Linked DNA regions of Homo sapiens. The protein of the gene in region 1 interacts with the protein of each later gene in a biochemical or structural test. Each region holds a gene or a part of one and is shown on either strand. Other genes may lie near its edges.

What was found. The genes of interacting proteins can lie anywhere in the genome.
Region 2: the proteins of CYSLTR2 (region 1) and MPDZ interact in a test that uses a peptide from one of them, tested with the Homo sapiens proteins (2 studies listed by IntAct, with this or other methods).
Region 3: the proteins of CYSLTR2 (region 1) and DLG3 interact in a test that uses a peptide from one of them, tested with the Homo sapiens proteins (2 studies listed by IntAct, with this or other methods).

Annotation. Positions count from the first base shown.
Region 1 is NC_000013.11:48,649,152-48,656,937, forward strand, and holds the start of CYSLTR2 (cysteinyl leukotriene receptor 2), read left to right. Parts: upstream 1-4,777; 5' UTR 4,778-4,866; intron 4,867-7,786. UniProt on the Homo sapiens protein: Receptor for cysteinyl leukotrienes. The response is mediated via a G-protein that activates a phosphatidylinositol-calcium second messenger system.
Region 2 is NC_000009.12:13,276,674-13,284,190, forward strand, and holds the start of MPDZ (multiple PDZ domain protein), read right to left. Parts: upstream 3,020-7,517; 5' UTR 2,727-3,019; exon of another isoform or gene 2,357-2,726; intron 2,085-2,356; exon of another isoform or gene 1,739-2,084; intron 99-1,738; exon of another isoform or gene 1-98. UniProt on the Homo sapiens protein: Member of the NMDAR signaling complex that may play a role in control of AMPAR potentiation and synaptic plasticity in excitatory synapses. Promotes clustering of HT2RC at the cell surface.
Region 3 is NC_000023.11:70,489,831-70,496,853, forward strand, and holds part of DLG3 (disks large homolog 3), read left to right. Parts: intron 1-2,276; coding exon 2,277-2,453; intron 2,454-2,690; coding exon 2,691-2,766; intron 2,767-3,545; coding exon of another isoform or gene 3,546-3,645; intron 3,646-5,577; coding exon 5,578-5,623; intron 5,624-7,023. UniProt on the Homo sapiens protein: Required for learning most likely through its role in synaptic plasticity following NMDA receptor signaling.

The DNA of each region.
Region 1 (7,786 bases):
AGCGGACATTAATGCTCACTCCAGCCTCATCACCTCTCCAGAGAGCTGACACTGCTTGGGAAGCTAAATTGTTCTTTTTGAAGGGAGAATTACATATGAGAGACTGAAAATCGAAACAAACTAAAAAGGATGCAAGCTCACTATGAATTAGTTAAGTCTATTGCGTTATCTTATGGCAAGTTTATAACTTTCTCCCTGAATTTTGGGTTCCCTTGGTTGGAGAAGGGAAATGTAGATGTGTTCCCTAGGACTACCATAACAAAGTACTGCAAACTTGATGGCTTAAATTAAAGCAACAGAAATTCATTCTCTCACAGTTCTGGAGGGCAGAAGTCAGAAATCAAGATGCCAGCAGGGCTGCACTCCCTCTTCTGAAGGCTCTAGGGGGAGTCTTTCATTGATTTACCAGTTCTAGTGGCTCCAGGTGTTCCTTGGCTTATAGCTGCATCACTTTAATCATTTTACATGGCCTTCTCCCCTGTGTGAGCTTGTTGACACTCCTTTGTCGTCTCTCTTACAAGGATACATGTAATTGTATTTTGGGCTCACCTGGATAATGAAAAATAAACTCGTTGCCTCAAGATCCTTAATTAACCACCATTTGTGCCACATAAGGTCACATTTACAGAATCCAGGATTTGAATATGGGCATGTCTTTGGTGCCAATGTGTAGCCCACTACACTACGTAATTCTTTTCTCTGTCTTATCACAGAACAGGCTCTCTTACACATAAAGTTGGTTGCTTTCTAAATTCCATGAGGTTTCAAGTTTGTTTCCATTGTTCCCCTTTCTTTCTTTTTTTTTTTTTTGAGATGGAGTTTCGCTCTTGTTGCCCAGGCTGAGGAGCTCAACGGTATAATCTCAGCTCGCCGCAACTTTCACCTCCCAGGTTCAAACGATTCTCCTGCCTCAGCATCCCAAGTAGCTGGGATTACAGGCACCTGCCACCATGCCCAGCTAATTTTTGTATTTTTAGTAGAGATAGGGTTTCACCATGTTGGCCAGGCTGGTCTTGAACTCCTGACCTCGTCATCTGCCCACTTCGGCCTCCCAAAGTGCTGGGATTACAGGCGTGAGCCACTGCGCCCAGCCTGTTCTTCCACTTTCTTAATGACCTAAATAGAAACATGATTCACGCTGACTTCTTCCTTTGTATTTAACCTTGCACTATGAAAACAAACTACTGTCTCTGATGCCTTAGTAACTTAATAGTGCTTCTGATCTTTTGAAAATCACAGGTTTGTGCTTATAGGAATATATCCTCTAGACTCAAGCTTATGTCTCTAAAAGTCTAACTAAAGGCCTTGTGGCTGGTACATTACTGTAATCAGCAAGAAACTGGCCCTGATTCTCTTAAACTCACTTTGTTCAACTGAGAACAAACTTGGAAGTCTCCTACAAAACTGGAGTTGATTCTCATCTCTTGATTACTTCTGCAGGCCTTTGAAAGTTCCGGAGAAGTTCTCTGTGTGCCATATACATTAAACACGCTTCCATGTTTTCCTTTAAATCATCAAGAGCAGCACATAGGATAATGTGTTTATTCCTTTCTCTGCTCCCTAGGATTATCTTCTTTTTAAAGTCATCGACCCTTTCCCTATCTACTCTAAATGAATGATTTCTTGCTCCATCCTGACAAATCCGGTTAAAATGACATTGCATCTCTTTATATCATCTGTCCAAATTGTACAAAGAAAGAGTGTCTAATGGGCACTCTCCAGCAAATTTACTGCCTATGGAGTGCTTAGAGATCCCAGGCTGTCCTAAAAATAAAAGAAAGTCTTGAATAGGTTTCTCCTTTCTCTGAGGTTTACAGATTCAGAAGCAGGGAGTAGGGAGAAAGCATTTCCCTCATTATCTTTCTAATACTCTTGAAACATATTCTGCTCCTTGAAAACCTAATATTCAAAAGTTAGCTCTCGGAGTGTAGGATCGATTTTTTTTCACTGTTTATTTTATTTTAAAGTTTTTAATTTTTTTTATTTTTATTTTTATTTTTTATTTTTTGGAGACAGAGTCTCACTCTGTCACCCAGGCTGGAGTGCAGTGGCACGATCTCAGTTCACTGCAACCTGCGCCTCCCGGGTTCAAGCAATTCCCTGCCTTAGCCTCCCAAGTAGCTGGGATTACAGGTGCCTGTCACCACGCCAGGCTAATTTTTGTGTTTTTAGTAGAGACGGGGTTTCACCATCTTGGCCAGGCTGGTCTCGAACTCCTGACCTCGTGATCCACCCGCCTCAGCCCACCAAAGTGCTGGGATTAGGCATGAGCCTTTTTTTTTTTTTTCTGAGGCAGTCTTGCTCTGTCACCCAGGCTGGAGTGCAGTGGTGTGATCCCAGCTCACTGCAGCCACAACATCCCCAGCTCAAGCAATCCTTCCACTTTAGCTTCCTGAGTAGCTGAGACTATAGGCACATGCCACCATGTCCAGCTAATTTTTGTATTTTTTTTTTTAGAGATGGGGTCTCCCTGTGTCACTCAGACTGCTTTCAGTCTGTTCTGGACTCGAGATCTTCCTGCCTCAGCCTCCCAAAGTGCTAGGGTTATAGGGGTGAGCCACTCCATCCAGCCCACTTTATTCATTTTAATGAGATGAACATTAGTCAATTAATTGGGCTTTTTGGCTCACTGCAACCTCCACCTTCCGGGTTCAAATGATTTTCCTGCCTCAGCCTCCCAAGTAGCTGGGACTACTGGCGCGTGCCACCATGCCTGGCTAATTTTTGTATTTTTAGTAGAGACAGGGTTTCACCATATTGGCTAGGCTGGTCTCCAACTCCCGACCTCGTGATCTGCCCACTTTGGCCTCCCAAAGTGCTGGGATTACAGGCGTGAGGTCACTGCGCCTGGCCAATTGGGCTTTTATTGGAGAAGAATGAATATCTATAGTGACTGCTTGTAGAATGAAATGTTGTTTCAAGCTTTTTGCCCCCTAAAGATGAGAATGGTAATATAACATTTGTGTACTGTGAGTTCTAATTGGGATAAATAAAATACTAGAAATAGAATCCCAGACCCAGGAAGAACCTTGTCTTCAGAGGAGCAACCTTGGTCCCAGCCCCTTCTCCACAGCTGCATGAAGAAGCTGCACAGAAAACCACTCACCCTCACCCCTAGAAAGTACTCTTCCCAGCCCCTAGTAACCACTATTCTACTCTCCACTTCTATAGGATCAAATTTTTTAGCTTCCACATGTGAGTGAGAACATGCAGTATTTATCTTTCTATGCCTGGCTTAGTTCACTTAACATAATGTCTCCCAAGCTCATCCATGTTGCCACAAATGACAAATTTTGTTCTTTTTAAATCAGTAAATAGTATTCAATTGTGAATATATACCACATTTTTCATCCATCTTTCTGTTGATGAACATTTCGGGTGATCCATATTTTGGCTATTGTGAATAGTGCTACAGTAAACATGAGAGTGCAGAGATCTCAACAAGATTCAGTAACCTTACTACTGAGTATATATCCAAAGTATTTTATTCATTTTGATGCTATTATAAATGGAATAGTTTCCTTAGTTTCCATTTTTGGATTGTTTATTGTTAGTGTATATAAATGCAACTGATTTTTGTGTATTGATTTCCTGTCCTGCAACTTTGCTCAATTTGCTTGCTTATTAGTTCTATTGGGGTTTTGTGTGTGTGTGTGTGCATGGTATCTTCAGGTTTTTCTACATATAAGATTTTATCATTTGCAAACAGACAAAATTTTACTTATTTATTTCCAATTTGGATCCCTTTTACTTATTTTTCTTGCTTAATGTTACTGCAGCTTTCTATGCAGGAAACGAGGATTTGAACAGTGATGGAGAGATGAGTAATGGTTCGATTTGGAACATATTTTATGGGCAGAACAAATGGAACTTGTTGGCTCAGAAGTGGGTGGTGGAAGAAAGAGGGAAGTTAAAAGTGACTTCTAGGTTTATGGATGGATGAACTGGCTAAATTATTGTGGTGCCATTTGCTTAGACAGGGTAGATGGGGGGATGCAGGACTAAGAGAGGAAGAGAAAAGCTCCACCTGGGCCACATTAAATTTGGCCATGATTGTGGATCAGATAGGTAAAAGCAAGAGAAGGAGGGAAGAAGTCAGAACACAGACCTCTGGGGAAAGCTCACACGTAGAAAAGGGGTGGAAGAAGAGGCATCAGAAAGAGAGGCAAAGAAGAGCAATCTGAGGGGTAGAAAAAGAACCAGGAAAGTCAGAGAAAAAAGGGAAAAGTTTCAGGAAAGTGGCAATGGTCAACTATGCAAACAAGAGGGGAAGGAAGGTGAGGACTGAGAAAGGATTTTTTATGTAAGCAACAAGGAGGTTTTTGGTGACCTCTGACAGAACATTTTCAGCAGACTGGATAAGGTCTCTGCCTGAGTGCAAGTGAGCTGAAAATGCAAGTGAGTGAGGGAAGTGCTTTAAAAAAGTCTAAAGTGCTATGTGTGTAAGGCAATGTTGCTATTTCTGTTGCCATGGAAACAGAAACCATTTAGGAGAACTAAAAGCCACTTAAAATTCCTGACTCTAACCCATCATATCCGCTTGATCTCTTGAGAAAGATAATGACAAAAAACCAGTCATTAGAGGGGCAGGGCAATTTTAGGTTTCTTCTTTTTAGACATAGCCCCTAACTGGAAATTTTCACCCTTCTTGAGAAGGGAGCTTGCACTAACATCTACAATGGCTTCTAAAAAGCACAGATGACCTGCTACACTTCCTGACTTGCTTGCTATTGGTTGGCACTGTTCATAAATATAATTTGCTCTTTCACTTTTCTTTGAAATGAGCAACCTGAATTACTCGGAGGAGAAAGGCAGGAGAGATAGAGGCAGCAGAAGCCAGGGCAGCTGAAAGACAGAGACCTTCAGGTGGGCATTTTAATCTTTGTTTTGTTAATTCAGTGTTGAGCATCATGACTTGATGATCACATAATAGTCAGAGGAGTAATTTTTTAAAAGTAAATTTGTTTTGTTCTACTATAAATGTTATTTTCCTATCATGTACATGGTAGTTTAAAAAATACTGTGGAAGTATAAAAATGTTGAAAGAAGCCAAATTCTCCACCAAAATAGCCTCTATTGATATTTTGGGGATCGTCCCTTTGTGTGTGTGTGTGTGTGTGTGTGTGTGTGTGTGTGTGTGTGTGTGTGTGTGTGAGTGTGTGTGTGTGTGTGTGTATGCACATATAACTTTAGTTTTCATAGTTGCGTCCCTACACTATGGACAAGTTTGTATTCATTTCCTCCATATCAGTCTATGGTTTTTCCATGTTGCTGTGAATTCTTTGTAATCATAAATTAAAGCTGCTGCATATTATTGCATTGAGGAACTTTACTATACTTCCTCCATTTTTGGCTGTTATCCTCTTTTTCATAGTTTGGGTCCTTCTATTATATAAGATATATTTTTTCCATTCAGTGTCTTGTTTTAGGGGTAGAAGAAGTTAAATCTGAGCACATATATTTCAATGGTTTTGCTCAGAGGCACAATGAGAATGAAAGAGTATGTGAGATCATGAGCATATAATCTGTTCCTTACCCCACTGGGACCCTAATCAGTGTTTCTCAACCCTGGCTGCACATCTGGCCAGAATCACCCGACTCTGAGGAGATTAGAAAATTACCCCTAGAATAACTGAAGCTTAACTTTTGGAGATCAGTGAGTCATCTGCAGTATTTTATCTTGTTTTCCAGAAACTTCTCAGGTGGTTCTAATGGGTGGTCAGCATAAAAACAGATGACCTAGGTCATTCAAAATATTTTTCTGTCTCTGAAATATACCTGAGAGTAATATGTATTAGGAGAAAGGGAGGTATAATTTAAGGCAAGCCAACCAAATCTCCCTTTCAACACTACATAAATAATGCAAATTATAAAATAATTTGTGGGAAACATAAGACTTCTAGAAATTTCTATCATCTACTCAGCCACATAAACTCTTGAGATAAGAATCTACTTGTGTTTCGATTTACTAATGTTTTAAAGAGATGGATTTGTTTCCAGTGCTTCGGTGGTTAAAAGTTAGAGAAGTTGAGGCTCAAGTGTGTTCTAAATGTATCTGAATCACGCCCATATCTGCTAGAATCTACCAAGGCAGCCAGGCTTCCTTTTAAAACTCTTCAAGATTAAACACAAGGTGGGCATTTAATAGCTGGCCAGTTCACTAACACACTGTGGGCACAGCGAAGATCGATGGGATTGGATTTGGAGGCAGAAGGTGGCTCACTCTGGCTTTCAGGAGCCACATAGACATGGCATTTACCTTCTCTGGACCTCATATCCTCAGGAGGAAAGTGGATAGAGTTTATGCCAGGGCTGCGTTCTGGTTTCTCCCATCAGGGACTGAAAACAGAGCCACAGCGCCTAAACCACACTGAAGCATTTGCTGTTGCACTCAGCCTGCTACAGGCTAGGAATCATCCCAATGAGACCAACAGCATGTTAATCTAATTTCTTCTTGTTTTGACTCAGTGGAGAACACCTGTTTAGTACCTTCTTTAATGAATGTAAACATTCACATAGTACTTTACTATTTACAAAACATGTTTACAGGCATCAGTTCATTTGATCCACATACTAGCCTTAAGAACTGGAGGATGTAATTCTTATTTTAAAGATGGTAAAGATGAGACCAAGAGAACATAGGATCTTTCCCAGGTGGAACCAGAACTGGTCCAATCTGGTTGAGCCCAGGGCACATGGTCCTTTCTTACAACTTAAATAATAGCTATTGTGGGAAATTGGTTAAACAAATTTCATAATGTTTATATAATTGGCTATTCTGTATCCAGTTAAATGATGACATTGATGTTGTTAGTTGGCAAAGAAAGGTGATCATGACACGAAATAAGAAAAAAGCAAGATACAAACAGCATTATAAGTGTGCTCATTTTTGTTCAAAAATATTTGTATATATTTCAAGAAAGATAAAAAAACCATATATGCAAAATTTTAGCTATGTCTGGTTGGTGGTAAAGTTCATTATTTAAGTTTATTTCAGCTTGTATTACATTGTAATTTTTTTTTACCATGAATGTGTACTACTTGTGTAATAAAAATAAATAGAATTGTTCATGTGTTTCTGGTTGGCTCTTCTCCAGATGAAATGGCCCCATCTTCTTTCACTTGACCATAAAGAAGGCTCCTGTTTAATTATCTGAGTTTTGTACATTATTGTCACAAATCTTATTGTGATTGTTAGCTAGTACTGACTGAACTCTTCACATGTGTTGGGCACCAAGTTAATCACTTAACATCCATTTTTTTTTCATCAATACTCACTCCAGTGCTCCTTTGGCAGATGAGAGTTTGAAGCTCAGACGGCTGCAGTAATAAAAGAGACTAAAAGGCAGAGTTGAAACTTAAACCCAGGTCCCTTTTAACTCAAAAGCACATGCTTTCATTCATTATATCACTCTGCCTCCTATCCACCTGGGATCACATGAGCAGCCTCCATTTTGGAGGAAAGATGATATATTTTTTCAGTGTACTCATTGCTGTGTACATGAGTACATGATGGTTACCTTGGGCATCGTTAGCATTTCCTGTGTACTCCAGAATCAAAGATCCTTTCTGCTTTTCTATAGTTTGCTCTGTGCACCAGATATCTGAGGCACTCTAGTTCCCCAAGGGTAAGCCTTTAAGATAAAAGCCTCACAAGGGATTGTGCAATTACCCAATGAACTCTGGCTAATGCGGCAGCCAAATTGGATAATACAAAGAAAGGCAAGCATTTTGCTGTGGGTGCTCAGCGTTGCTAGAGAGCTTTTTGAAATCCATGTCAGAAACC
Region 2 (7,517 bases), on another chromosome or scaffold:
GGACATTCCAGTCCAACTTTGCCTCAAAATATTTCATGAAATTCAGAGTACTTTGTACGTTTCCAAATATACAAAATGTAGCCAACCTGCAACTCAACCTGAGAGAGACAAGACTATGTCAGATCTGGGATGTAATCTGGAGAAAATAATCTACCTCTAAGTGAGGATAGTTACCTTCCAGGCAATTCATTGTTCCTCTCCAGCTTTTAAATCCCTTAATCTCAATTCTAGACAATGGATTCACTTGATCATTTGTCAAGCAAAATCTCTCCACCCTAGCAGTTAAAAACTAAAAGTGGCCAACTAGACCTAAATCCATGTAAAGTTACATATCAAGGATTTCCAAGAGTCTCTCTGAATAGCTTCAACTTGTAGAAATATACTAAACTCTGAGACCAGCCTCTATTCCTCACAGTTAGGTACATTTAAATGCATCTGAAAAGGAAAGATGTCTTTAAGGGTCAAGCAGAGCAATGTCTAGGTGATAGGACTTTGAAGCACACTAAAAATTGACTAAAGATCCCTCCCTTTCCAAGCCACAACCTTCAGGCCTAGTCAATAAAAAGGAGTGTGGTAAAGGGACAAAGAAAACCAGAACTAGAGAAGGTAAGTGAAAAGAATAAACACAGAAAGGATCAAAGGAAAAAAAAAGGAACATATGTAAGAAATAAGGTACACCATAATCTATTAGTAATATGTTGAGAATAATCTTCATTAGTTTGTTTGTTTTGGCAAATGAGATAGGGAAGAAGAACGGAGAGTCAAGGGGTACCCAAAACTAGTTTTGCCTACATTGCACACAAGGGTACAGGTGCCTCCATCCAAAGCTTAGTATTGTATTAGAAGATCAAGTCAAGGAACGTTTTGCTAGGCTTTTATTTTTATTTTTTATTTATTTACTTATTTATTGAGTCAGAGTCTCGCTCTGTCACCCAGGCCGGAGTGCAGTGGCGCGATCTCGGCTCAATGCAACCGCTGCCTCCCGGGTTCAAGCGATTCTCCTGCCCCAGCCTCCCTAGTATCTGAGACTACAGGTGCGAGCCATCACGCTCCGCTAATGTTTGTATTTTTAGTAGAGACAGGGTTTCACCATGTTGGCCAGCCTGGTCTTGAACTCCTGACCTTAAGTGATCCACCCACCTCGGTCTCCCAAAGTGCTGGGATTACAAGCGTGAGCCATTGCGCCTGGCCAAGTTTTGCTAGGTTTTTAAAACACTATTGTTTGCCAAAATTCCATCAGGTGCTAAGGCATACATTATACAAATTTAGATAGTTCCAACATTACAAGATGTTCATTGTAATCACTCATACCCAAATTCAACATGTAAAACTCCCAAGCCCGAAACCATCACCTCCTCCTCGTTAGTTTTCAGATAAGGTGTTATTTATTCTATAAAGGGTAACCTAAACCAGGAATTTCTAGGGAAACACGAAGGGGATGTTTACATCAAACTGTCTACAAGGCAGGACGAGGCAGTCTGATCACTTATCAGATTCCTTCTCTATGACATCAAGGAACATGGAGAAGTTTTCCTTCTACGCTGGTGAAGTCATGGTCCTCTTATCTATCTGATGATACCTAGGAAACACTAGCCTCCAACCGCAGCCCCTACTGCAAAAAGGCAGTCAGTGCCCATTGCCGGGGTCTTCCCAAGCGGAGCACCTCAAAAGCCGCACCGCGCAGTAGAGGTCTCCAGGGGCCCCCACTCGCCCCCAGTGACTACGGAGCGGCCTCTACCTCCCGCCGGCGCCTGGCCACTTCTCCTCCCCCGCAGTCTCCGCTTGATTTCCATGTGACTGCAGGCAAGAATAGCCCAGCCTTTGTGCCTCTGCAAAGAACGCAAACAAAAATGTACACCATCACCACCCAACAAACGCGCAACTCCGCAAGACACAAAGCGTCTCCCAAACATCGCTTCCCTGGTAACATCCGGCATCCTGGGGCTGCCAAATCGCAGACAAAGACGCCCATCAGCGCGGGGGGTGAGGAGACTAAGGGAGAGACAAGACCAACGTGCTCCCACCAACGGGAGCGGCGGTTAAAAGGGCGCCGGTGCCAGGGGTGAGGGACGGGGCACCGGTACCAATTAGCGGCTCGCCTCGGGGTCCCCGCGGCTAAGGCGAGAACGCAGGACCAGGAGCATTGCTGCCCACTCTCTACCGCAACCCGCACATCCCGGGACCACGTAACGGCGGATGGGGCGTCCGGGAGCGGCCCCTGCAGGGGAGAGCAACAGGCTCCCGCGCCCTGGAGGCCTGGTCTGCGCTCCGGGCCCCCAGGCTAACACCCCACCCCCAGCCCCCCGACACCAAGACTGTGCCCCTCTGGGTCAAGGAAAAGGAAAAACTTTTAAACCTCTTAGTCAGCGAGAGCAAAAGAAAGGGGTGGCGGGGGTGCTGAAAGGTCTAGGATTATCCACCGCGGGGCTGGGGGGAGTGGAGACTTGCGAGTAGCAAAGGAAACTTCTAGACCCCATCCTTTTAAAAAAGCCACAGCAGCGGCTTCCGCGAAGCGCCGGGCCGCGCGGGGTGGGGCAAGCGCACCGCCCCACCGCCCCACGGCCCGCCGCCACCCCTACCCCCACCCCCACCCCCACCCCCATCCCCGCCCCCACCCCCACCCCCAAGCGCCGAGCCCAGGGCGCCCGCGCACCTTCCCCGCCGGCGCGCGCGCAGGGCGCGGGGGCGCGCCTCGGCCTCTGGGCCGGGGCTCAAGCGCCGCTTACCCGGCTCGCGGCGCCCGCCCAGGGCCGCGACGCGAGGGGGCGGAGGACTGGGGAGCAGGGGTCGCCGGGGCCTCTGGATGCCTCGCCTCGCCCACGCTCACTGTCTTCTCTTCTGAAGTAACGACCCGGCGAGGAGCTTCGGATCAAAACGCACAGACACTCACGCGTGACTGAGAAACTTAATCCCGCGGTGGCCCGACGCCAGCCTAGCGCTCCGCCGCGCCCCCTCCCCCAGCGCGCGCCGCACTTGCGCCGACCGGGGCTGCCGCGGAGGCGGTGGCGGGGCCCAGGCTGCTGGGGCTGCCGTGACGCCTGCGACCGGCGGGGCGGCGGGCGCGCCTTGGCCAATCAGGGGACGCGGCCGAGCAGGCCTGTGCGGGGTTTTAAACTCGCTCCTGGGCCGCTCGACCTGGGGTGTGGGTAGTGGACTTGTGAGGTGGTCAGATAAAATATAGGCTGCTCTGTTAAATGGGAATTTCAAATAAAAAAAAAAAGGAATAATTTTAGTACAAGTATATCCCATGCAATATTTGGGACGTACTTATGCTAAAAAGTTCTTCGTTGTTTATCGGAAATTCAAATTTAATGGCAGTCTTGTATTTTTATCTGCCGATTTTGTCAACCTGCGGAAACTGATAGCCTGTTTCTAGCTCCTCAGATTTTCCTTATGTGCACTGCCCTGTGGATGCTTTCTGCATGGGTAGCTTACTGAATGGCATAGGATGCTTATGAGAAGCGCTTTAATCAGAAGGGTGGGGGCAGTCCTCTCACTTTCTAAGTAACTTTTCGCACATCAGGGTGCATTCTTAGTCTGATGATCCAATTAAAAAGCAAAAACAGTAAACATGGAAAAGTTATTAGAGTTGCATGGCCCCAGGAAGAACAGATATTCATTTCTATTTTGTGCCACTTAAGATTTTCTTTCTGTTATCCTCAATTTGGAAGTCCCACGAATTTTTTTCTGCATAAGAAACTCTTTTTCAAAATATCCCTCTGATATTAGATTATAGGACCAAAGGATACTCAGAAGTCCAATTTAGAACATTTAAAAGAATTTCTTTTAATATTCTGAATAAAAATACTTTTTTCTCATATTCCTTGGACTTTCAAACACATTCACAGCTGTTGACCTCTCTCTTCCTAGAGTCCTCCCCACCCCACCCCTCTTGTAATTCCATGCAATCACACTCTTGGTTTTGCTTCTTCCGCTTAGTCAAGGGCGGATGTATGGGCTCTGAAGCTTGTACAATTGGGAGCTCTGCTTTAACCAAAAAAAAAAAAAAAATCTTTCTTTAGAAAAATTCAAAAAATAAATGCCCATGTAAACACATTGCTAGGGTTGCTCCCAGGCAAGAGAAGGACCCGGAACGTTAAGCTACATCAATTTCCAGGTAGATCTGCCCCTGTCCCCAGGCCACTCTTCAGTCTTCTTTGCCTCCTCTCCCCCAATCTTTAGATGCTGGAATTCCTTAAAAATCAGTTACGGGCCCTCTTTTCCTTTTAACTCTTACCTCTAAATACATTTTCACTTCTAGCTTATGATCTCGTACCTACAGAATCTTACATTTATACCTTCAGATTTATCCATATATTCAAGTGTTTATTTGGCTTCCCTGTTTGCTTGTCTCAAACCTAGATTGCAAAAAAAAATGCAGCCGTGATACTTCTGCTCAAGCCTGGTCATCTTGTTCAGTGTCCCAGTGAATGGAACTGCCATAGATGCTACATGATTCCCACAAACTACGATAAACCCATTGTGATGCATTCTTATGGTACCCTATGCTTTTGCTTCATAATATTTTTCCTACTTTGTAAATATGCATTTGATTTTGTAATTATGCAATGTCTCTTCCCTCTTCAACCATAAACTCCATGAGAACAGGGGCTAAGTCACCATTTTATCCTCAGAGCCTAGTAAAAACTTCACACTTGGTTGGCACTCATATGAAATAGGATGAATATACGACTGCAAGAATGAATAATTTCTCCATATAACTTTTGTGTTCTTGTCATAGAGTCACCTCAAGGCATCCCATTTGGAAAGGATTTTCTTATTGCTTAGAAATTCCAAAGGGATCCTCCTGTTTGAATAGCACTTCTACTTGTCAGTTTTCAAATCTGGTCATTCTCAAATACAAAGGAAGTACGTGCATGAAATGTTAGCTGCTGGGGTAGTGTAGGAGGAAAAGAATTTCATAACTAGCTACTGAAGGAATTCTTTGAGTCCTAAAATTTTAAATGGCATTTTTTATATTGAACCATAGGGAAAGAGCCCATAAAACTGAATTAGAGGAAAGTTTTAGAAATTTAATTCCCTGGTTTATTGTGGATAAATGAGATTAAAACAAATAATTTTACCTTGGTTTAAAAGGTGCTATTGTTCTAGTCTCCTTTAGCGAAGCAAAGCCCACATGCCCTCTTTAAACAGCAGTATATCAGAGGATAAAAAGGCATCTGGTTTAGATTAGTCCTTGCATAAAATTATCCAGAGTTTGGGGATAATTCCACCCTGAAGCTTCTCCTTTTGAAGTTAATCCGTATAGCTATTGCTCTATTCTCTTTAACTTGTTCTAATCCAGAAAACCTAAGATTTTCTAGAAATCCACCGGGGATATAGTGCACTAGTTTAAAAAAAAATACCTAAAATAAAAGTTAAAAACATTAAAGTTGAAATAAAATCTTGCAGAGAAAGACAAAGTGTAAAGCAGATAGAGTAGAGGTGCTCTACTCTATGGGATGGCTTGAAACCCCATACGTAAATAGATTAATAATGCTTTCTATTTCATGTTAATACAGGCTCTGGGGTCATTCCACCTATATCCTCAGTGAGGCATTCTCCACAATAATTTGTTTTTCTCAAATTTGAGTCATATTCAGAGGACTTTTATAAGGGAAAAAGTCCTGGAAACTTCTGAGATTGGTTTAAATTATTATTGTTGGTTTATTATTTATTGTTCATCATAATTGAACAGTACAAATATAAACTATGTATATGATATTATTTTACATTTGTGGCTCCTCTCCAACTCTAAAACTAGTGAAAGGCCCGGGTTATCTACTCAAAACCTTTAACGGCTGCTGAAAAGACAGATCCTGGAAATTAAACTTTTGATCCACCAAAATAACAGAGGATTCTTTTAGTTGCCTGCTGAGCACACAGTCTTCATTCTGCTTTTTAACAGCAGATAGCCAAGACGTAGGTGAGACCCCCATGCTGGGAGATGTTACTACAGAACTGCAGGGTTAGAACTCTATGAACCAAATCCTTTCCCAAGGACTGATTTGGGGTAATCCTAATAGTGGGGTGATGGGCTATTTTTATCACCTTTAGCCAGCAGTGACTCTTATTAATAATGCAGCATTTAAATGCAAACTAGATGGCATGCTTGCCAGTCCCTCTACCTAAGGGATATCTAATATATAACAACTGTGCAGTTTTAGTTTATTATAGTTTGTAGATTTTTTATGTTGTCTACTGGCTGACTGACTTTATGGTTTCAATTTGCCTCAGATGTCTCAATTAAAAGAAGAGTTCAGATAAATTTTTTTTCAGTTTGTTCAATGTTAAAAAGCATTTTAAATAATCCTTAATTTTTTCTCTCCATTGAAAAGAAGTCAAGGTTGAAAAAAGAAGATAAAGAAGAAAGAGAAGAACATTAGGATAATGGATATATATGTGTCTAGGAGAAAGCCATTAGGGGGAGAGAATGACTAAGAGAGAATCCCAGGAATGAGAAAAATGTAAAAATTATTTCTCTTTTGAGAACATACAGAGTAATCTGTCTCTCTTCATATAACAAACTGTTTATAGAGAGATAAAGGCTCTGAAATCTCCAGTGTGTCTGATTAGGCCTCATCTCTCTAAGCATGAAAGAAAGGGCATTGGGAGGTCATGACCTTCTGACCTTGAATTCATTTGCATTTGTACCCACAAAATTCTAACTCTATAAGGAAATTCCAGGAGAAAGCATTGGGGCCAGGTTAATTTTAGGAAGAAACACATCCAAACTGTTCCAGAATCTGTGCCTCAAGTTTATGCCAGCTAGAATGACATTTTGAACTATCTTACAAAATATCTTCCCTGTTATGCATACTCTGAGGGCATAAGTGAGTTATCCAAAAAGAAAATCAAGAAAAACAATAACAATAGTGAAAAGAATTTGTTCAAGTTGCATAGTATCTTTTAGGTAATACTCCCCCTTCATGATGGCAGAAAGAACAGAGGGGAAAAAATTGAGCTATTGAAAACACCACTGAGTCAGTGGATTATGTCTTACCTGAAGCCCACTCCACCTCTTGTCTTTCCACTTGTATGAGCCAATAAATTTTTTTTAGTTCTTAAACTAGTTTGAATTGAGTTTTCTGTTGTTTGTAACTAAAAGCATTCAAACTGATGAAATACACATATTAAGCCATTCACAGTGAGCTAGACAGGTACTTTTAAGTTTCAAGGAACACACTGAGATTACCTCAGTCGGAGCTTATTAAAGGATAACTAGGAATATAAGGAAAACATGAGTTTCCACTGGTGAACAGCCAGGTCTCACAGAAAATGTGACATCTTTCTGGTCACAACACAAACACACAGAAACAAAAGGTCATTTCAGAGGATGCAGCTCTAGAGATGAGATTTTCTTACAGTCTGTGTGATTCTACCATAATTATAATCCAGTATACCTCTGTCCCTATGTATCTAGCTTTTCTTCTTCCTCTAATGTTTGTTTATATTGGGTCCTTGAAAGTCTGGTAATCGTGGATGGTCTGTTTATATTTAATAATGAGGCAGTGAGC
Region 3 (7,023 bases), on another chromosome or scaffold:
ATCCTAACTCCCCTAATTCATTTTATTTTATTTATTTATTATTTATTTTTTAGACAGAGTCTCGCTCTGTCACCCAGGCTGGAGTGCAGTGGCGCAATCTCGGCTCACTGCAACCTCTGCCTCCCAGGTTGAAGCAATTCTCCTGCCTCAGCCTCCCGAGTAGCTGAAATTACAGGTGCCCGCTACCATGCCCGGCCAATTTTTGTATTTTTAGCAGAGACGGGGTTTTGCCATGTTGGCCAGGCTGGTCTCGAACTCCTGACCTCAAGTGATCTGCCTGCCTCAGCCTCCCAAATTGTTAGGATTACAGACGTGAGCCACCGCGCCCGGCCTCCTAAATTCATTTTAACATCTTCCTTCCTTCTCTCACCAAACTAATTTGTGCTTAATTCAAGTTCTGTTCTTTTCCTTACTATATTTGTTCTAATCTTTGAAACCCATAATGACATCCAGTGTTTCTCATTGTCACTGAGAATGAGGTTGCTTCATGATGCTCTTCTTAGTAGGAGTGGCTGACAGAATGTCTTCCTTGCTTTAGGAAATGCAGGACTCAGGCAGTGAGAATGCATTCAGTTTTGATTCTGTCACACATAGCCCGGAATGCACCTCTCGGACAGCACCTCCTTGTCTGCTGCCTCTGCCATTCTCCTTACTGCTTTGAGTGTGTAAATTGAGGGGAAAAAAGGGCTTTTTGTTAGAGTTTGGGTATTTTCATTTTCAAATCATCTGACGCTGATTTTTAAGAACTCTGTTTCAAGAGCTGTAAGCAGTAGGTGAGTATTTCACTCTTCATGGTTTTACTACATCCTATCTCATTTGGGCTTGCATATGGTAAGATAGTGTGTTTTACTTGCAGCTTCCAACTGAGCCAAAGGCCACAGTATTGCAGGTAGAAGTCAAAGTCTTGGAACTAGATTTTGGGCTGTGTGTGCAAAGGTGTGAAAACACCTTATTAACAGAGAATATGAAGAAGACAGCCTAGATTGCAGGTAGAAAAATACAAACTTCTCACTGAAATCACCCATTTGTGGTGACTCCATATGAAGACAGGTTCCACTGGATGTGAAAAGTAGAAACTTTTTTTTTGGCTTTTTTTTTTTGAGACAGAGTCTTGCTCTGTCGCTTAGGCTGGGGTGCAGTGTCGTAATCTTGGCTCACTGTAACCTCCACCTCTCAAGTTCAAGTGATTCTCCTGCCTCAGCCTCCCGAGTAGCTGGGACTGCAGGCATGCAACATCACACCCAGCTAATTTTTGTAGTTTTAGTAGAGATGGGGTTTCACCATATTGGCCAGGCTGCTCTTGAACTCCTGACCTCAGGTGATCCACCCGCCTCAGCCTCCCAAAGTGCTGGGATTACAGGCGTGAGCCTCTGCGCCCGACCTCCTAAGGCTCTTTTGATGTGTCACTCCTCTCAGATTTCCAGGGGCCACTAGATCTTGTCTATTCAAGGGCTTCCAAAATTTGCTTCAGACCTTTATTTCCAATACCATTTCCTAGGACTTCTAGCATCAGCCAAGCTGGTGTCCTTTTCCATAAGCCTGGATTGTATAGCTCCCTCCCCACCTTCTCCCACCTTCCCTTTTATTTCTTTACTCTGCATCATTTATAGCATGTCACAACAGCATGTCTTGTCAGAAGACCTGGGTTTTGTCCCAGGTTGGTTAGATGTATGACCTAGGTCAAACTATTTTTTCCTCCCTGAACCTCTGTTTCCCCATATGTAAGAGAAAGAGACCGCACTAGGTGACTTCTATGGTCCCATTGGTCTTTTCAACCCTACCATTCTGTGCTTTTTCTTTGGCTGCCCGAGGACATAGGGCCCTTTCTTTAGTGCTTCAGGAGTGTTTACCAGTCATTGTTTGGGATTGTAGTTAACATTTTTTGTCCTCTCTTTAGCTACTTTTTGAAGATATGTTTGTGAACTGAGAAAGCGCCCTGCTAGAGCTAGTTTCCTAGGATGTGGGTGAGGGAGAGGGCTATTGAGCGAGTTCTACTTTGGACTTTTATCTTGCATCCAGAAGCCAAGAGGAGATGGGGTTTGTAAAATATTTTCTCTTATGCTTCTTATTGGGAGAATGAGATGTTTCTTTGAAAGCGGGTGCATATTTACCACTTTGGCTCAGAAAGAAGGATGTGGTCTCCTGGAGACATCCTTCTAGTATACTGTGAGGCTGCTATGTCTGTGCTGTTTGGGTTGGCCTTCCATCTTTTCAAGGTGCCAGTGTCTTGGCATTTAGGGTTGGATGATCACTTCATCTTTCACTGTGCCTTTCAGGGCCCTGTTTGATTATGATCGGACTCGGGACAGCTGCCTGCCAAGCCAGGGGCTCAGCTTCTCTTATGGTGACATTCTGCATGTCATTAATGCCTCTGATGATGAGTGGTGGCAGGCAAGGCTGGTGACCCCACACGGAGAAAGTGAGCAGATCGGTGTGATCCCCAGTAAGAAGAGGTGAGTCGTCATGATCATGAGCAAGGCCTTTCCTGCCCTCTTGCTGGTATTTCTTTCTTGTTTTCCTATTAGAAGTTGCTTGAGAGCAACGTTTGTGCCTTGATTCCTTTTTGGTAGAGTCGGTACTCAACATGGTTTTTACTCAGTGAGCCAAAAAAATGGCTGCTGTGCCTGCTGCAACCCACTGCTGAGACCATTTACTGGCAGTAACAGGACTTCTTTCTGATTCCAAAACAGGGTGGAAAAGAAAGAAAGAGCTCGATTGAAAACTGTGAAGTTCCATGCCAGGACGGGGATGATTGAGTCTAACAGGGTAAGTGGGGATCCCCAAGGAAATCAGCCAGTAGGTAAAGAGGGTTGAGAAGCCTGGAGTTTAGTCTGATGTGTAGGAGAACTGGGGAACACAAAAGAAAATCTCTTTTTCAGGGGGCTGGCTCTGTCCTATCAGAACATTGACTGCTTTTCAGAAAGCAGAGAGGGAGCTCTTAAAGTTCACAGCCAGTCTGTGCTCCTTTCCCCTGGGTACCGGCTCTTGAAGATGTGTTAGAGTTGGACTGTCTGGAAGGCTGACTTGCTTGGGGAAAATGAAACCACTCGTGGGTGTCTCCCTGGCTATAGATCCTGTCAGAGCATCCGGCCAAGAAGCCCAGCTCCAGAGCTCCCACCTCCCTTCAGACCACCTGAGGCAGGCGGGTTCTCCATTCACCCCTTTTTTTCTATGAGCTTCACAGGCCAAAGAACTTCTGGAGCAGTAGAGGGAAGAGAGACGTGGAGTAGATGTGTATATCAGTGGTACCTTAGGGCATGTGTCCAGGAGGCTACAGTGACCTTTGTTCTTTAGGAAGTACCAGTGAGTGTTATGAGTGTCTGGATTATGTAGAAACTTCTAACATCCCTACAACATTTTCTTGTAAACATAATTTTCCTCTTACATCAACTTTCATTTAATCTCATAGACTCCATTTGTGAGAGATGGTCTTTTATTTAGCTCACCGTTGTCTCCATTTTAGTTTTTCTTGCATGCTTTAAAATCCATTGTTCTGTTTTTTTTTTTCTTCTGTCCTTCCCCTCCATCTTCATGTTCTTTCACAGTCGATCAAAACGAAACGTAAAAAGAGTTTCCGCCTCTCTCGAAAGTTTCCATTTTACAAGAGCAAAGAAAACATGGCCCAGGAGAGCAGCATACAGGAACGTAAGTAGCAGCAGAGTCCAGAGAGCAGGCCATCTGCAGCCCCATCCTCTCATCCTCAGTTGCCCTTCCCTCGAGAGAAGCCTGGGCAGGGCCACGTGTGGCCTCGTGCCTGCCTGTGTGCGTGTGCACCTGCTTATCTACAGAGTCAGGGCAGAAACTGGTCTGCCTAAGGAGATGTTGGGTTTTATTTGTCCTGCTCCTCAGTTAGAATGAATGTTGGAGGCACTGAGGTGGGACTGGTCCCAGGGTCAGCCTCCAGGAAGTGCCTGGCACTAGCAGTGGAAGTGCCAGACAGAGCTCTGCTGTGGTGGTGAGGAACGGTTTTTTAGCTAGACTGTCAGGGTCAGGAAAATGGTTTTTCAAGAGAACAAGGTCTAGGGACTCAGTGTTGCTCTCCTGGTTTCTTCCTCTTGTGTTTTCTTTCCCTTAACTTCACTCATGTATGTCAAGAGAAGAGCCTTTTCTTCCCAGGATCCCTGGAGTTGGGGCTACTTCTGGAATCCCATGCACGTGCATAAGCATACAGGATATCCACACAACTCTCAGCAGACTCGCTGTCATCCTAGAGTGCCTACAGAGCCAGTTTTCCCAGGAGAATCCTTCCTGCTTAAATGAGTTGACATGGAAGGAGTGTTGCTCCACATTGTTCAAATAAAGATCTATTGAGAAACACAAAGTTGGTTCGGTAGGAAGAGCAGTCACACTGAGCTAAATTCAACGGAAGAAGAAATTTAATCCTGATAAATCTTCTTGCTCTACCGTGTGCCTCAGCAATTAACTGCTCCAACCTTAACCTTAAACACCAGGTCTGGCTTGAAAAATGTCTTCTCACTTGTCTCATCATGAACAGTAAACATCTCTCATTTACCAGTGACTCCTCTGTCTTACATGGAGGGATCTTGGGGTCTTGGTCTATTGGGGCTGGCAGGAGACTGACTGGTTCTGATAGGAAATGTCCTTCTGTCAGGCCAGCTTGGTCCACAGTCATGGTATGTGTAAGTCATTGCTATCTGGGGTGGTACCTGGTGGACAGAAGGGTGCCCTCATCTAGATGGCAGCCACGGCTCATCATCCTGGAGTAGTTCAATGAGAAGCCATAGACGGGGTGGCTCTGCTCATGAGCAGTTAGGAGACAGTCTGAGTCAGAGGCCTGAGGTGATGTCACCATAGTTTCATCAGATGAGTCCCAGAGTCCCTCCATGCCAAGCCCAGCCTGGGGAGGTGTTCATTGCTCAGTGGTCCCGCCTGGTGGGCGAGGGGGTATCTACTGGATGACAGAGTTGAAGGTGCCTAGTGCTTCTCCAGAAGCTGAGCTCATCCCCCAAGATCTGTCCAGCTCAGGGCAGCTTTGGAGGCCACACTCTACACCATGCGAAACTTTTCCTGAAGGGTTTGAACAGAGTGAATCAGTATTGGGCAAAGGCTTCTTGAGGTGATGGCAATTCTATCTGCCTACCTGGCACACGCGGACATTTGCTCTTTCACGCACTGCAGAGGGAAATGGTGATTTCAGGGGCAAACAGAGACCTGGGCTCCACAACCAAAATTTAGTCAAAGCAGGTGCTCTAAGCCTTGGAGTGTCACCTGTCCTGTCCCATTGGCCTACAGCTGTAGACACCTCAGAAAGCTAGTCTACTCCAAGGCCCTCTGGCAATGAATTGGGCAGCATGAAGTCTTGATGTCTTATCTGCCCTGGGATGTTCTTTCTGTGGCAAAGTTCCTGGCCTCACTATAGTGCTAGGTCTTCATGGTGTTTCATAATTCTGTCACTAGTGCTCACCTACCTCTGTATTCTTCCTCCCCCCTTGTCTTTTTCTCTATTTTTTCTCTTCTCCCCAAATCTCTCCCTCTCTTCCATTCCCTCCCATCCCTTCCCCTTCCCCCCTCTTCTCCCCGTCGTCCTCTCTCCGCCCTTGCTGTCTGTGAAATCAGGACTTCCCGGGGTTAAGTGACGATTATTATGGAGCAAAGAACCTGAGTAAGTCCAACTTACACACCGTTCACTGTACTTGTGGCATGAATGGAGATAGTGGGGGTGGGGCTATTGGGGACATGGGTGAGGGTGAAGGGTGAGGGGAGGGCAGTGTTTGTGAGCACTCTGACATCACAGCAGGAAGAAGTGCATGTGGCTCCATATGTTACATGTTTGCTATGGATCCCTAGTACCCAAATAAGTCCATATCATTCATGCCTTTGTTTACCTTTTGCTACTCAAAGTGGGAGGGCGTGAGCATGGCATCCCACCTTAGAAGTGAAGTAAGCTTGAAATGTTTCTCCAAGGTAACCACTCAGCTAATCTCTAGCCTATTGTCGAAGGGAGGGGTGCCTGCTGGTTGGATTCTTCTCCCAGTGATACCACGCTAAAGAATTGGGTGTAGGAATTGCAGCTGTTAACAGTCCTCTAACTAGGGGCAAGGGTACTGTGACCCCTTTTTCCCAACCTGCATCTGAGATGTCCCAGCAGATCCCGGGCCTCAGCAAACAGCCACTGTTTGGCTTCCCACAGAGCACCTGTAAGGGGTTGAGCTGGTCTGCTAGGGGCCTCAGCATCATTTATGGACCATATATAGTTAGTGCTTTATCTCAGGAAAACTCCAACCTCATTTTCCTTTCTGGAAAAGAATCCTGGAGTGGAAAATGAAAAAGACCTAGATGATGAGGCCTTAGTGGCCATCCTGCTGCGTGCAAGGGTGCACAGACACCAAATGGGTTCTATCAGCATATACTCTCCTTCAATAAATAATACAGACCAAAGGCAAAGGAGTTGCCCATGGGGATTGTTCAGGAACTAGCCATGTGTGGCAACTCAGCCAGTCCTTTCTGGGTGGGGGGGCCACAGCATATCATGGTCTGGAACAGTGTGGTCTTGGCTGAAATGAGCAGCATCTCTCTCCATAGTTTGGTGTGTCCATGTCTCATCTTCATTCGCGTGTCATCTTGGATGGGCGGGCTTTGTTTGTGCCTCCTACGAGCGCTGCTCCTCCGCCTGAGCTTTCTTTTCCCTCACCACTAAGAGATGGGCAGATCCCAGCTGTGTGAGACAGGAGGGCTGCCTTGTCCTCAAGGTGTTTTTGTTGGTTTTGTTGTCTGTGTTTTGACATATGTGTCTGGTGGTGGATGGAGATGCTTCCCCTCTCACCACTGAAGCCAGGCTCTCCTGCTTTGGAGTGGTGGCAGGAAGGCTGGGGAGCCCACCGAATGGTCAGAGCAGCGCTCCCTGGTGTCTGCTTAACCCATCCAGCGTTTGGCCTCTTAGTTGTGGAGTGCCACATGGTTCTGTACTTCAGGGGCTCTGTTGGGCGGGGGACACCCATGAGCAGACTGGTCCCTGGACTTCTCTTTGCTCCTGTCACTGTCTTTTCTTTCCTGTTGTTAGCC